Linked DNA regions of Homo sapiens: all the other regions are linked to region 1. Evidence: fine-mapped expression QTL. A gene starts in region 1. Each other region holds a variant in brackets. All regions are shown on one strand. Distances are between the middles of the regions.

Region 1 (5,000 bases):
TGTAGCCAATTAGGTAATTTCCTTACTTTGTTTTTATGTTTAGTCTATTGAAGCTTGCTCTCAGGCCACTGGAGCTGAGCTTTCTGAACACTTCTGGTTCAGAGTGCTGCAGATTTATGAATTGTTGTTTGCTGAAATAAGGTGTAAAGTTTATTTTGTCTAAAGTTTTTAACAGGAGTGATAATTCAGGCAAAATGTTCACATAATAGTGGGAAATCAAAAGCTTGCGATACAGAAAAGTGATATATATTTGTAAACTCCTTTAACAAAGGCATCGTAGCATAAGCATGACTGTAGAGCCAGACTGTCAATGTTCAAATTTTTTCTGGGCCTTAATTTCTTTATCTGAAAATCGTTAACAGTGGAACCTAGTTGATAGGGTTGTTGTGGAGCAAGCGTTCTTAATCTGGAGTCCATGAAATTTCAGCATCTGTGAACTTTGTATTGAAAAAATCGTAACTTTATGTCTATTAACCTCACAACAGTTTCGTTTCTTTGAATTATAAAGGCAGGCAACAAACCACAGTAGTATTATCAGTACCTACAACTTTGTTTCCTACAGAAATTATTTTCATACTCAGTAAGTTGTTGCAGATATCTTGAACAATTATACGTATATATTCCTTAAGTATTATATATATAATATTTTTATATTCTGTATATATTTTTGGAGACAGGGTTTTGCTCTGTCTCCCAGGCTGGAGTGCTGTAGCATGATCGGAACTCACTGTAACCTCAAACTCCTGGGCTCTAGTGATCCTTCCAGCCTCAGTCTTGGAATAGCTAGGACTACAAGTACTCCCCACCATACCCAGCTGTTAATTTTTTTTTTTTTCGTAAAGACAAGGTCTCACTATCTTGCCCAGGCTGCTCTCCAACTCTTGGACACAAGCCTCCTGCATAGGTCTCCCAAAGCATTGGGTTTACAGGTGTGAGCCACCGTGCCTGGCTAATACTATGTATTTAATTTCATGCGTTTAGAAATATGTGCTATTTTAAGAAGGCGTCTACAGGTTTTATCACATTACCAAAGGTGTTCATGGCACAAGTGAAGAAATCTCTAGATACTAGAGTAATAAAAACCATGATGCATTAGAACGGATCAGGCCCATATCAAACGTTCAACATACAGTCTGCTGCTATGGTTCTTTTTTTTTTTTTTTTTTTTTTTTTGAGACAGAGTCTCATTCTGTCTCCCAGGCTGGAGTGCAGTGGAGTGATCTCGGCTCACTGCAACCTCTGCCTCCCGGGTTTATGCCATTCTCCTGCCTCAGCCTCCCAAGTAGAGGAACTGCAAGGCGCTCCACCATGCCCGGCTACTTTTTGTATTTTTAGTAGAAATGGGGTTTCCCCATGTTACGGCAGGCTGGTCTTGAACTCCTGACCTCAGGTGAGCCACCTGCCTCAGCCTCCCAAAGTGCTGGGATTACAGGCATGAGCCACCATGTCCAGTCTGCTATGGTTCTTAAAATATTCATAGAATAGAAATTGAAGTAAGTCTATTCGTTTTTATATTAAAAGTAGCTAGTACGGTGCTCTGTACTTATGCACTCCATGGATGCTGAATGAGTCATTGAATGAAGTGGAGTCTAGGTTGTGCCTCAGGCCTTCCAGTGGGGCTGGAAGGAACAGTTGTGAAGTTGTGGGGCGGCTTCTGTGCATCGGGGGACTCTGGAGTTAGATGGTTTCCCAGGGCTCTGAAGGAGAAGAGCTGTGTTCCTAATAATGATCTCAATGGGAATAGAGATTGCTGGGGACCGCAGGGGCCAGGTTGTCATTCCCCAAAGCTTCCCCTTCATCATCCAAGAAGGCATTCAGGTCTTTCTGTGCTAGGCCCCAGGTAAAGTGCTGGACTACCCAGTAATTGGGTTCAGTAGCAGGATGGCCTCAGATTGAGGTCCCAGGGCCAAAGGACCACTCCTCTCCTCAGCGCTGGTCCGGGAAAGGCAAGCTCCGGGCGGGAGCGCACGCCGCGCCCCCGAAGCCTGGCTCCCTCGCCACGCCCACTTCCTGCCCCCATCCCGCGCCTTTCCAGGTCTTCTCCCGGTGAACCGGATGCTCTGTCAGTCTCCTCCTCTGCGTCCTCGGCCGCGGCCCGGGTCCCTCGCAAAGCCGCTGCCATCCCGGAGGGCCCAGCCAGCGGGCTCCCGGAGGCTGGCCGGGCAGGCGTGGTGCGCGGTAGGAGCTGGGCGCGCACGGCTACCGCGCGTGGAGGAGACACTGCCCTGCCGCGATGGGGGCCCGGGGCGCTCCTTCACGCCGTAGGCAAGCGGGGCGGCGGCTGCGGTACCTGCCCACCGGGAGCTTTCCCTTCCTTCTCCTGCTGCTGCTGCTCTGCATCCAGCTCGGGGGAGGACAGAAGAAAAAGGAGGTAGAATGGATCCCCTTGGCCTTCCCCTGTGGGCGGGGGCGGGCCAGGGTGGGCCGCGTTGCCAGGCAGCCCTGCCGTGTTGCTAGGCAGCCTGGTCGCCGGCGTGGGCGATGCCGGCGCTGGGGCGGGAGCCGCGAGGGTGGGAGGCCCTGGGGCGTTTCCGGGACGTGGAGTTAGCAGGGTTCTGACTTGAAAAACGACGGCAAAGCGTGTTCTTGACTGCTTCTGAGCACCTCACACCTTTCAGACCCAGGGCGCCTTTATTCCCAGCTGGAAGCCCAGCTTAGAGCAATGGTGCCACTAAAAGGGGTGTGTTGGATGTGAAAATACCCTTTGGAAGTATTTATAAGCCTGCAGGAAATATGTTTTCCTTATTTTCTTACTCTGCTCCCTTCATTACCCATTTCAAGAAGCAACAGAACCTGTGCAGAGTGTGTTTTAAGTTACACTGTATGTTTATTTTTGTTTATGTTGAACTCGGTGTATACTTGTGAGAATAAGCTTGCATTTTTTATTTTGTGCAAGTACAACAGAACATATTGAGAGTGTGTTTTAAGTTATCCTGTATGTTTACTTTACGTTGAACTCAGTGTATACTTGTGAAAATAACCTGCCATTTATTTTATGTGGATTTATTTCTGAAGTTCATTCAATCTGATTTCAATCTTAATCCACCATTAACTTTGAAAAGGTTGAGATTTGAAGTGACTGGTTGTATTTAAAGTAGGTGGAGTGTTTGTAAGTTCTAATTATCCATCATGGATAGTTGATCTAGCTGCTTCAGCAAAAATAGTTATTTCGGGAATGTGACTAGGGTTTCTAATTGTGGACCATTTTGGTGAGAGTTATCTGCTTACATAATTGAAGATAGTTTTTCCTGGTTAAGTTGTACACCTACACAGGGCTCAAAATCTGAATTGGGTTTAAGATATTAACAAAATTTTAATAGCTGGGTAGAGACAGTGAAAAAATACCCTCATATGCAGAGTGATTGTTTCCCTTTCTCTTTATTCTTAGTCTGAAACAAATATTGTGTGTTCAATTTTAACTAATGTACCTCTCTTCAGCTTTTAAATTTTAACATGAAAGTAGGTCATATGAAATTATTGGTGAAGTTCTGCTAAGGGATTTAGAGAACCACTGTTAAACTGAAATTGTATTTACAAATATAAATTAATGATTTTTTTTAGCACTTGGTATTTGTATACCATATTCCAAGAGTTTTAGATTTAGGAGTTCACGAGAAAGGTAGAAGAGTGAAGAAAAAGTAGACAGTTTTTTTTGTGGATTACCAAAGCAAAGGGCAATAAAAGATGATGAAGAACTCCATGGAAATTGTGATGTTTTATCTCCTAGGACGATCCCTAGGACCACGCCAATTTTCATTTGAAGGGTGTGAACCCCAAAGTATTTTAAGACTGACCTTAATCAATTTTTTTTTTTTTGCCAGTGTTAAGGATGCACTGGTGACACAGCCTCTGGAGGTCCTGATGGCAGGTGCCCAAGGTGGTCAGGGTACAGCTGGCTTTTATACATTTTAGAGAGACATAATACATTGATCAATACATGTAAGGTCTACATTGGTTTGATCTGGAAGGGTGGGACAACTCAAAGGGGGAGGGGCATCCAGGTCATAGGTAGATTTAAAAATTTTCTGATTGGCAATTGGTTGAAAGAATTGTTATTAATAGAAAGGAATGTGGAGACCATGGTTTTATTAGCCAGATGAAGCCTCCAGGTGGCAGACTTCAGAGAGAATAGATTGTAAATGTTTCTTATCAGACCTAAGGTCTGTGTTGATGTTAATGCTGGTTGGCTTTTCCAGAATTCCAAGAAGAAGGAGGGTATAATGAGCATGTCTGGCTCACTTTTCCCATCGTCGCCTGAAGTGGTTTTTCAGGTTAGCTTTGGGATATGCCCTCGGTGGAGAAGAGGGGCCCTTTCAGATGGCTGGGGCAGAGGTCGGAGGGTGCTTACATTTTTGTTTTTCGTTTACAAGGGGAAAAAAAAAATCTAAAAAGTGTACATGTTTACAGCATCTGAGTATCTCCAATAATAAGATGACTTTAATATGTGAAAACATTTGTGGATTTAGTATAATTAAATCTAAATTACAGCAACATGTTTCTATTAAAATTTTTTCTCGAAATATATTTTTGAAATGAAAAATTAGGGAGAACATTGTTGAGGATTAAAAAAGTTTTTCTTGCAAATTAGTTTTATTTCTCCTAAGTAGGAGCACTTGATTTCACTGTATGACAGTATTACAGTGTATGTATATTTTACTGAAGAAAAGAAGAGCAAAATAAGAGCTTAAATAGTTGATGTTTTCAAGACTGTACTTTCAGGGATCATTTCTATAGTTTGTTAAATACTTGGTGTTCTGATACTTTACTCAATAAGCATGCGTATCTCTGAAATACAGGCCATTCCGTATCTGGTACTCACTAAGTTCACAAACTGTGATCTCTTCCAATATTGGAAGGGAAACACGCTATATTGGAAAGTGTGGTCACCAATGTGGTATTTTCCTAGTGATAGCCCAGGGTTATTTTGACAGTATGTGGTCTCTTTCTGTCTAGCTGACTTTAAAACCTGATGCCTATGATAAGATTTGGCACAATGGAAC
Region 2 (5,000 bases), 200 kb after region 1:
ATAAATTCATCAAGGCTGGAATACAAATTTTGAGGAGATTGGTGAAAGTTAGGTTAGGCTGGATAATGAAGACCTTGCTGAGAAATTTGAATCTTAGCTACACGTAGTAGATGCAGTGCAATTAATATGCCAATTTTATATATTTGGCATTGGGTAACTTACGAATTCTTTTTGAAGTATTATGAGGTTGAGCCCCGCATGTCTTCTTGATAAATTTGGCTGTGGAAAGGGAAATAGTAGCGTCATGCCTGTTTAGGGAACAGAAAGCCAATGGAGGCTTGCTCCTGTAATAATATTAAGGATAGGGTAGAGAAGGTAGAGCAAAGGAAGCAGGAGTCGCTGGCAGTCGTTCTGGCTGCTGGCAATGGTTCATCCTCCAGCATGAACCTAAGTAAGGGAATGGAGAGTGACTCAGCTGCTGTTTTAGAGGAAGAAGAAACAAAATTGATAATAAATGTCACAAGTAAGGTTCAAGAACAGGAATCAGAGATGATTCTGAAGTTCAGCTATGTGTTGTAGGATAGAAATATGGAGGAGAACAAGGTTTGGAGGGCAATGTTTAGCCCAAAAAAGTTCCTAAGATTGATTAGGCCTCATAATTGGTTGATGAGAAAGGGATTAATTTGTTTAAATTGCTTAAGATCATAAAGCCAATCAGTTGAAGAGTCAAGAACTTAAAACTTTTAACCCATTGTTTTTCTACTTAGTAATATTTTGCCAATAAATCAAAACCTCTGTGGTGAATAGGCCAGTAATGTTCTCACCAAATTATATATTGTGTTTATTTGTTGTAAATATCTGAAAAGATCATCATAATAAAGATACAGTGGATATGTTGATTTATTTTTTATTTTTATTTTTTGAGACGGAGTCTCACTTCTTGGTCGCCCAGGCTGGAGTGCAGTGGCGTGATCTCCGCTCACTGCAAGCTCTGCCTTCCGGGTTCACGCCATTCTCCTGCCTCAGCCTCCCAAGTAGCTGGGACTACAGGTGCACGCTGCCACACCCGGCTAATGGGTTTTTTTTTTTTGTTTTTTTGGTTTTTTTTTGTATTTTTAGTAGAGACGGGGTTTCACTGTGTTAGCCAGGATGGTCTCGATCTCCTGACCTCGTGATCCGCCCACCTTGGCCTCCCAAAGTGCTGGGATTACAGGCATGAGCCACCACGCCCGGCGATATTTCTTTAGTTATTCTATCGTATTTTTGTACAGAAGACAATATCCTCTAGCAGTATAAAAACAAATGTGTGTGGGGATATGTAAACATAAATACACACATACACGCAGGTGCATGTGCTTTGTGCTGAGATACAAGAGTCACAAAACCTGACAAGATGTCTGATGGTGTGGCATTTACAGTCTAAAGGAAGAGGAAGACACACAACAAATGACAGTGCAAATAATTCTTCATTTACAATTATGTTCTTAAAAAGTTTTCAAATGTCCAAAATTCAGTAGACTCAGGCTTGAGGCACATGGATCTTAAGTGGAATATCATGAAGTGAAAATATGCAGTTTTTGAAACCATAATTGGAAGAATTAGTATGCATATGAAATATATAAAATTGTGTTTAAAACTCTTTATATAATTTCCCAGAGTAGAGAATTTGAACTGTGGTATCAAATGATAAAATTAAGGTAGGGTATGTTTTTGATTATAGAATGTTCTTAAAATTCAAAACCTCATGTATGATTTTAATGAGATAATCTTAAATCTGCTTTTCTTACTAAATACACTTATAAATATGGCACAATAAAACAGACATGTAATTACAAGTAGTGGTTTTCTAAAATAAAAAGGCATCTTCATTTCACATTTAGAGAAATGTTTGCAGATATGTATGATTTTACTGTCCTAACTAATCTGCCTTTTTTTCTATCAATCAGTAGTCAGTCCAGGAGGGGCAGAACTATGTCATTTAAAATTTTATTTAAAATTTCAACCAGATCA[A/G]ATTAGTTTCCGTAGACAGTAATGTTCCCACTGAATTCACCAAGATATGGTCTCTCTGTATGAGTGGATATAGAACACGTGAGTTCTAGGATAAGCTTTAGTGTCAACTATATAATCTCTGACCTAAGTTAGAAGATCTCAAGAAAATGACATGAAATAAATATTAGTTAGAAGTAAAATTATTTATATAAAAGTAAAGGTTATACTAGCAATTTAAAATTTTTATTCTTATAAAGATAACATTGCATTTTCTGTGAGCAAAACATTTTTTCCATTTATTATGAAAGAATATGATTTTATTCGCATCTGTTTCTAGTCTATTATAGAGAGCAAACATTCCTTTTAATGTGTTATATCCAAGGAGAAACATACTATAGAAAAAAATTAATGATAGATGCAGTTGAAAATTTTAGATTTAGAATTCTTTAAGTAAGTCTTCTATAATGTGCTAACATTTTTTTCAACGTCTATTTACATTTATCTATCTTTAAATTGAAAACATCTTGATTCCATTCCTAGTAGCAACAGTAAACTTAGCATATGCAATTGAGAAGGGATTATAATGTTTTGTAAATATATTCGTTACTAATTCTGTAGAATGCTCAGTGCCTCTGGGTATTGTATGTAATTTACACAAATAGCAGCTTTTTTATGTGGGATCATGTCAGTATTTTGACTAAGCAGTAGGAAAATGATCAACAGGATCAGCAAAGAAACTGGAGTGTGCACAGTAGTTTAAATATATATTGCCATGATATTAATCAATAAAAATGTGCAAAGTAATACAAAAACTAGGCCAAAGTATGTGTGTATAGGATAAAGGGTAGAGGTCCATCTGTTATTTTCTTTTAATGCTGGGATATTCCAATAAGGCAAAGCTAGACGGCTACACCCATCAATTTAATGACCAAAAAAGAACGTAACATTCTTTTTGGTCAGACGTAGAATCTTTTCAGATTTGGAGGGTCTTTCATTAATCATTCAGCCTTCCACTCAGTGAAAGAAATGCCACGTAAGAACAGTGAGAGATGATCATCTAGCTTCTTCCTGCATATAAAAATTAAGATTTTTATGTTACAAATGTAATTTTCCCCAAATGGTAAGTATTATTCAGTCTCTTTTTCAGCCAAAAATGTTTCAGTTAATACAATGAAATTTAAGCTAAACGATTCTCAACTCAACTCCTAAAGGCCTTGAGTTAAAAAATGTATCTTTAAATAATAGGGAGGGTTAGCGAGCTTAAAGCCATTTTAGTATAATTCATATGTCTTAATTACACCCATCAGGTTTTTAAACGGCTCACTGCTCTTTTCTTGTTAAAGCTTAGAAAACTCACTTTTGCAAGAAACATTCTGAGAAAGAGATCATACTTACTTACTGACCCCGCTGATTTCTAACAAAACATTTTATCTTGAGGTTGTATATAACCTATGTCTAGTAATCCCTTTGCTTTAAAATTCCCACTTTAAGGTTGTGTGCACAAATGTTTACTAAATTCTTGCATTTTAAAAAATTGTCAAGTAAGAATAAAGCTAAATTCCAGTGAGACATAATGGTATACAGTTTTTTTGACATCACCTTAAAATCTTTACAGCAGGGTTTGGCAAACTAGGACCAGTTCAGGCCCAATCCAACCTGCCTGCTATTTTTGTAAATAAAGTTTTATTGGAACACAGAAACACCCATTCATTTACGTATTGCCTGTGACTACTTTTGCACTACAACAAGTTGAGTAATAGCAACAGACTCCATATGACTTGCATAGCTGGAAAATACGTGTGACTCTTTCCTGAAAAAGTATGGCAATTTCTGCTCTATAGGCTGTGGTCAATAAAGAACACAAAAATCCACACTTTTATTAACTCACCCGTGAACAGTTACTGTTTTTATCTTTCATTCCCTGCAATCATTTCTTTGCATTTGTTTTAAAGGAGTCAGGTTTTATATATACTTTTATACATATTATACAAACATATACATCTTTTCACTTGGTATGGTGACAAAATTACTATTAATATATCTTGCTTTTTTTTTTTTTTTTTTTTTTTGAGAGGGAGTCTCACTCTGTTGCCCAGGCTGGAGTGCAGTGGTGCAATCTCGGCTCACTGCAACCTCTGCCTCCCAAGTTCAAGCAACTCCTCTGCCTCAGCCTCCTGAGCAGCTGGCACCACAGGCACGCGCCACCATGCCTGGCTAATTTTTGTATTCTTAATAGAGACGGGATTTCACCATATTGGCCAGGCTGGTCTTGAACTCCTGACCTTGTGATCCGCCTGCCTCAGCTTCCCAAAATGCTGGGATTACAGGCGTGAGCCACTGCGCCTGGCCTCTTGCTTTGTTATTAAGAATTTTTGTCAATTTCATTTTATATGGCTAGTTAACCTGTCACAAAAATATCTCATATGTTATAGTTGGACATTTACATTTTAATTTTTCACTATATAAATTATTCTAAAATAGATTTTTGTATGTATATTAAGTTTTTTCAGTATTTTATGTTTTGCCTTATTTATTTGGGAATAGCTTTATAGGAGTGTAGTTCATGAGCATACTTCTGGCACATATAATTAATGATAATTGATGATTTGCTGAGGTTTTTGACATGCTGAAATCTTAAAATTTTCATGTTGACTTGGGGTTTCTGTTCCATTTCTGCCCTGTTAATAGGGAGTCTGCATATTTTTTTAACTCATATAATTTGAAAAATGCTATATTGTTACTGCATTTGCTCCCAACAAAAATAGTAAATTATAAAAATGATTTAAAGCAGCGTGAAACATAAGTGATATAAAGGTAAATTCATAGACATCTTTAAAATGGCAATTTTGTGAGTTATTGCAAACTTATTTGTAAAATCTGGAATATGTTTATGGAGTAGTAAAATGTATTTGAATGCTCTGTGCTTTATGAAGAAGATTTTTATTCTTAGCCTAAAGATATTTCATGCTGAAACTGGGCTAGCAATTATGTTCTTTGCCCAATGCTTGTTATCATTTTCATCTAATCCTGATATCATCTTACTTCATTACTTTTGTGCTTTTTTGCTTTGC
Region 3 (5,000 bases), 72 kb after region 1:
TTGTTTTTATGAGGGGCTTTGCGTTTTAGGCACTGGATTTATTTCATAGCATACTTTGAAATCCATAAAATTCCATACATTCATTGATCCGATTTTGTTATTACCACAAGTATCAAATGCAAAATATTTCAGTATACTGCATGATGTTTTCGCTGATAAAATTAAGGTATAGCAACATCTAACATTAGAATTCTTAAAATTATTGCTGCAAGGGAGTAGTTAAGTTTCTCATGGAGAAACATTTCTGGTATTTTCAATGTAGAATTTAATGTTGATGTGTTTCTGTGAATTCACTGCTTCCTTTATTAATTTTTATGAATAAGGAAATACTAGCAAACTTGATTTATTTTAAATCTTTGGAATATTAATTTAACATCTGGCAACAGCAATTCTTAAGTTCTTATTGTTATACTGATTTTATATATAAGTGAGATACATATGCAAGTTTCGGAAACAGTTGTTACTTCGAAATATTCTTTTTTGCCTTTGAACCAGAGAATAAATAGAGCAAAGAGACTGGCAAATTGAAGTAAACCCCTTTAAAAAAGTGACATTTGAATAGGGCTACTGTGTTAGCAATTCCTATATTAGAGCGTAAAAGTTTTACAAATTTTCCATTCATTCAGTAGAGGTATAGGGAGGGCTTGAGGGCCTCTCAGGAGCCACCAGTGTTCAGGATGCTCTCCGGGGTACAAAGATGGTCAAAATGTGGATCTCTCCTCAGGGAAAATTTCTGAGGAGAGTTCAGGTTGATAGACACATAACTAAAAGAGTGTTACTGGACTTATTTTTAATATGTCTCTAGAAAAAGTTCACTTAATTGAATATTGTAGTACCGTCCACTGAAAGCTTCTTTTTCAAAAAAAGTGTGATATTAGAATAACTTAATTTCTCTATTTCTCATTAGATAACTTTACACAAACAAAAGGTCTTTAGGATCTTCCCAGAGGTGGAATTGGTTTGGGATTTTACAGTATTTCTTTCTTTAATTTTTATAGTGTTCTGTATCAAATATTTCAAAGAACTTTTTTGTTGTTGCTGTTGTTGTTTTTTTGAGACAGAGTCTTGCCCTGTCTCCCAGTCTGGAGGGCAATGGCGTGATCTCGGCTCACTGCAAATCCCGCCTCCCAGGTTGAAACGATTCTCCTGCCTCAGCCTCCCAAGTAGCTGAGATTACAGGCACCTGCCACACATCCAGCTAATTTTTGTATTTTTAGTAGAGATGAGGAGGTTTCACCATGTTGGCTAGGGTGGTCTCAAACTCCTGACCTCGTGATCTGCCCGCACCGGCCTCCCAAAGTGCTGGGATTACAGGCGTGAGCCATCGTACCTGGCTACCTTTTTGCTTTTGAATGTAATGATAATTGTTTTCTGATGGATTGCTGATTACATTATCTCTAGAGAGACCATGATTTGCTGAGTTCTTAACTGATTAACCTCTTGGAATTTTTGCTTTCTTTATGGCGTGTGTGCTGTATGCATTTTATATTTCTGATAAAAATGGTGTATTTGTTTAATTTACTGTATAGCTCATTGTGGTCTTCTGAGTGCCTTTAAAGGTAGTGGTGGTCTTTACTGAACTATCAGTTTGTAATGTAGATGAGGTGGTATAGTGCTTAATCTCTGATTTTTTGGTTCCTAGAAGCATTAATTGCCCTTTATATATTTTTAAATCTGTTAAGTATGACATAATATTAAGAAATATGAATACAGATTTTTAAGATCGAATTTCCAACATGGAAGATAACTTTTCTACTAAATGCAAAACGATATGCATCTGGCTGCTCATGTTTGGTTTATCGTTGGGTTTTCATTGAACTCCTTAAATATTAGAGTCTTGAAAAGTAAAGGCTTCTTGTTCTCTTAGAGACTCCTTTAAAAATATAAGAAGAACAGAAGGGGTCATGATATTGTTTCTGTGGGTTAGCAGTTGATACCTTCAACATGTACGTCTTGTTCTCATTCCAGATCTGCATGCTGTGAATTACTATAAGCAAGTTTTATTATGGCTATTTTGATGAGTACCTGCTATTCAGATAGCAGGTACCTGAATAAGTACTGTATATGTGACTGGTAAACAAACACGTGAATAGCTGCCCCCCTGGCAGAGGCATCTTGGTTAAAGACATGAGACCACATATCTTTTTGCCTTGGTACATCTGGTCATGTTCCTAGGGATAAAATGTTGAAACAAACAAACAAACAAGAAAGAGTAAAAAATATGAGATTAGTGAGCTCTTATTCTATTTAAGCTTCACTTTGGAATGAACCATTGTATTACGTATTGTTTAATGCAATGTACTATTTCTTGTATTTTTGGTTATAAATTGGTTATTGTAGTAAAATGTGAATTGAGAAAAAATGGAGTGGTGTCATAATTTGGAGACTGGTATATAGATTATGCCAGCTTGTTTATTATACTGAGTTGCTATAAAGTTAAGCCTTCATAAAAT[G/A]TTAAGATAAAAATACAAGAAGGAAAAAATATAAGAAAGAGGAATGGGCATCTGAACGTATTATGACTGATTCTATTAACTTCATTCATAGATGTGACCTTCTAACCTTTGTTTTTTATAAAGTAACAAGGATGGGGCTTTTTTGTTTTGTTTTGTTTTTGAAGATTCTAAGTTACAGATTTCTTTTTCCTTTTCTGATGTGACAGATTTATGGCATCTTGGACTGTATGTCCCATCTTGTATCAGTAAGAGACAAAGCCAACCGATCACCCACTCTTCACTGATCGGACCAGTCTAGACTTCAGAATCTTCTGCAGTGAATTTAAAGGAGCCACAATATCAGTTAATGTTCACAGAAACAATATATTCTTTACCATCCCTTCCTGAGTTGGCACTAAGCCGTTTACTTAAGAGCAGAGCTACAGCCATCGCATATCAATATAAGCCATATTATATATATGATATATATATATATATCATATATATGTATTTTATATGTGTTTGTGTGTGTGTACACATGGACACTTTTTAGTGCTAGAGTTTATTTGCCTTAAGGGCTTGAGAGTAGGATCTGTCTTATTTGTGCCAAATTTGGGGACAATGGGATTCATGTAACATGTCTTACAGTGCTTTTTTTTTTTAAGTAAATTTAGCACAGTGCTTTTCTTGTAATACTCAGAAACATTAGGTAACTCTGAGATTGAAGGTATTAATGAGATTTAAAAAATTCCCACTGCAGATAATTCTTTTAGCAATGTGATCTGTGTTGTTGTTAGATCATGACCTGAAGAAAAGGAAAAGAAATTTGAGTGTCTTAGCATTTGTAAGATGCAGTGCTAAGAGTTTTCCATGCATTGGCCCATGCAGTTTTACAAACATCAAGTCTCATGAGATGTGATGGTTTTATGAAGGGGAAGTTCCCTGTACATGCTGTCTCTTGCCTGCTGCCATGTTAAGATGTCCCTTTGCTGTTCTTCGTCTTCTGCCATGATTGTGAGGCCTCCCCAGCCATGTGGAACTGTGAGTCCATTGAACCTCTTTCCTTTATAAATTACCCAGTCTCGGGTATGTCTTTATTAGCAGTGTGAAAACAGACTAATACAAATACATATAGCATTATCTCAGGTTTTGTAAGAGTTGTATTATATTCCATCTTATAGATATTTCTGTTCTCCTTTAACTTTAACATTCCCTTTAAGCATGGACTTTTTTGACCCAACTTTCATTCTTCACTGGGAATAGGGAGCTGAGATTCATGAGCATAATTTTCTTCAGAAGACCAAAAGGGACACCCAAACAGAGAAGTTTGAATTAGGCCTTTGAGATCTAATTTAGAGATTCACTCATTTTCCCTGTGTTATCTCCCATGTGTACAGGAAGTATACATTTGTGAAGCTTCTGGTGTTTTGTTATTTTTTTTTTTTTTTCGGTGGGGGTCTGAGTTAAGAACTCCATGAAGGATAGAAGAGAAAATTATTTTTTTCTCCCCTAAAGACTTGAGAATTCTCAGATTATTTAGTACCAAAATTGTGTTTCTGAGAGAACTAAGTATTTTCTCTGCATTAGCCATAACACATATTATTTTAATTAAGGTTTCTGTTTTTTTAATCACCTCATGGAAACACTGAGTCTAGGCTGAGATGGGGGTCTTTAGTATTGGATGAGGCTCACTTATGCCCACTAGCCTTTATGTAGGTATGTTTTACATTTCTTAACATGCACTCATTTAAGTGTATGATTAAATGACTTTCAGTAACTTTAGTGAGTGGTACAACCATCACTAGAAATCAGTTTTAGAACATTTTATCTCTTCAGTAAGATATTTGTGACTGTTTACAGTTAATCCCTGTTCTTACCTTGAGGCCCAGACAACTGCTTATCTACTTCTTGTCTTTATAAATTTGCCTTTCTAGACTTTTTATATAAATGGGAGAATAAAATGTGTGGTCTGTTATGTCTGGCTTCTTTCAGTGAATATAATGTTCCTGAGGCTTATCCATGTCGTGGCAGTTACAAGTTGGCTTCTTTTTATTTCCTAGCAGTATTCCATTGTGTGGACCTACCATATTTTGTCTATCCATTCAACAGTTGATGAAAATTTAAGTTTTCATGACATTTAAATTTAAAGTCATGCTTGTACAAATTTGTAAATTGCCTTGGACATAGTAATCTGTGAAATGCCGGATTATTATTCTTTTTTGCTAAGGATATAGTTACATAATAATTTATATATGAAACAGACTCCTTGGGTTAGAATTGAAATTTCCAATTTACTTTTTATATATAGTGAAAGTATACAAGTACAGCTATTCAGGCTGTTATTAAAAAGACCAAAAAAAAAAAAAAAAACCACCCCAAAATTCGGAAAAGGACGCGTAGTAAAGGGAACTCTTGTACACTCATCGTGGGAATGTGAATTAGTACAGCCATTATGGAAAACAGTATAGAGATTTCTTTAAAAACCAGAAATACAACAACCATAATATTCAGCAATCTCAATGATGGTTATTTATCCAAAGGAAAGGAAATCAGTGTATCAAAGAGATA

Which allele goes with the higher level. Alleles are on the strand shown, and positions count from the first base shown. SD is a standard deviation of normalised expression in the study named.
In carriers of allele A in region 2, the expression in prefrontal cortex of the gene that starts at base 2,066 in region 1 tends to be higher than with G alone (small effect, 0.18 SD a copy in GTEx).
For the expression in cerebellar hemisphere of the gene that starts at base 2,066 in region 1, A is the low allele of the variant in region 3 and G is the other (moderate effect, 0.44 SD a copy in GTEx).

Evidence for each region. PIP is the estimated chance that this variant, and not a neighbour inherited with it, causes the effect.
Region 2: its variant is fine-mapped to the expression of TUSC3 in prefrontal cortex (GTEx, PIP 0.90).
Region 3: its variant is fine-mapped to the expression of TUSC3 in cerebellar hemisphere (GTEx, PIP 0.98). The same link has a PIP of 0.9 or more in cerebellum.

The regions. Positions count from the first base shown.
Region 1 is chr8:15,538,198-15,543,197 of GRCh38, forward strand. TUSC3 (tumor suppressor candidate 3) reads left to right here and starts at 2,066. Exons shown (of 11, transcript NM_006765.4): 1 at 2,066-2,371. The coding sequence starts at 2,234.
Region 2 is chr8:15,734,853-15,739,852 of GRCh38, forward strand. The region is part of intron 7 of TUSC3 (tumor suppressor candidate 3); the gene reads left to right. Among named protein-coding and RNA genes, the nearest start is that of TUSC3, 200 kb to the left of the region's middle. The variant A/G (reference allele first, on the strand shown) is at 1,951.
Region 3 is chr8:15,610,151-15,615,150 of GRCh38, forward strand. The region is part of intron 1 of TUSC3 (tumor suppressor candidate 3); the gene reads left to right. Among named protein-coding and RNA genes, the nearest start is that of TUSC3, 72 kb to the left of the region's middle. The variant G/A (reference allele first, on the strand shown) is at 2,454.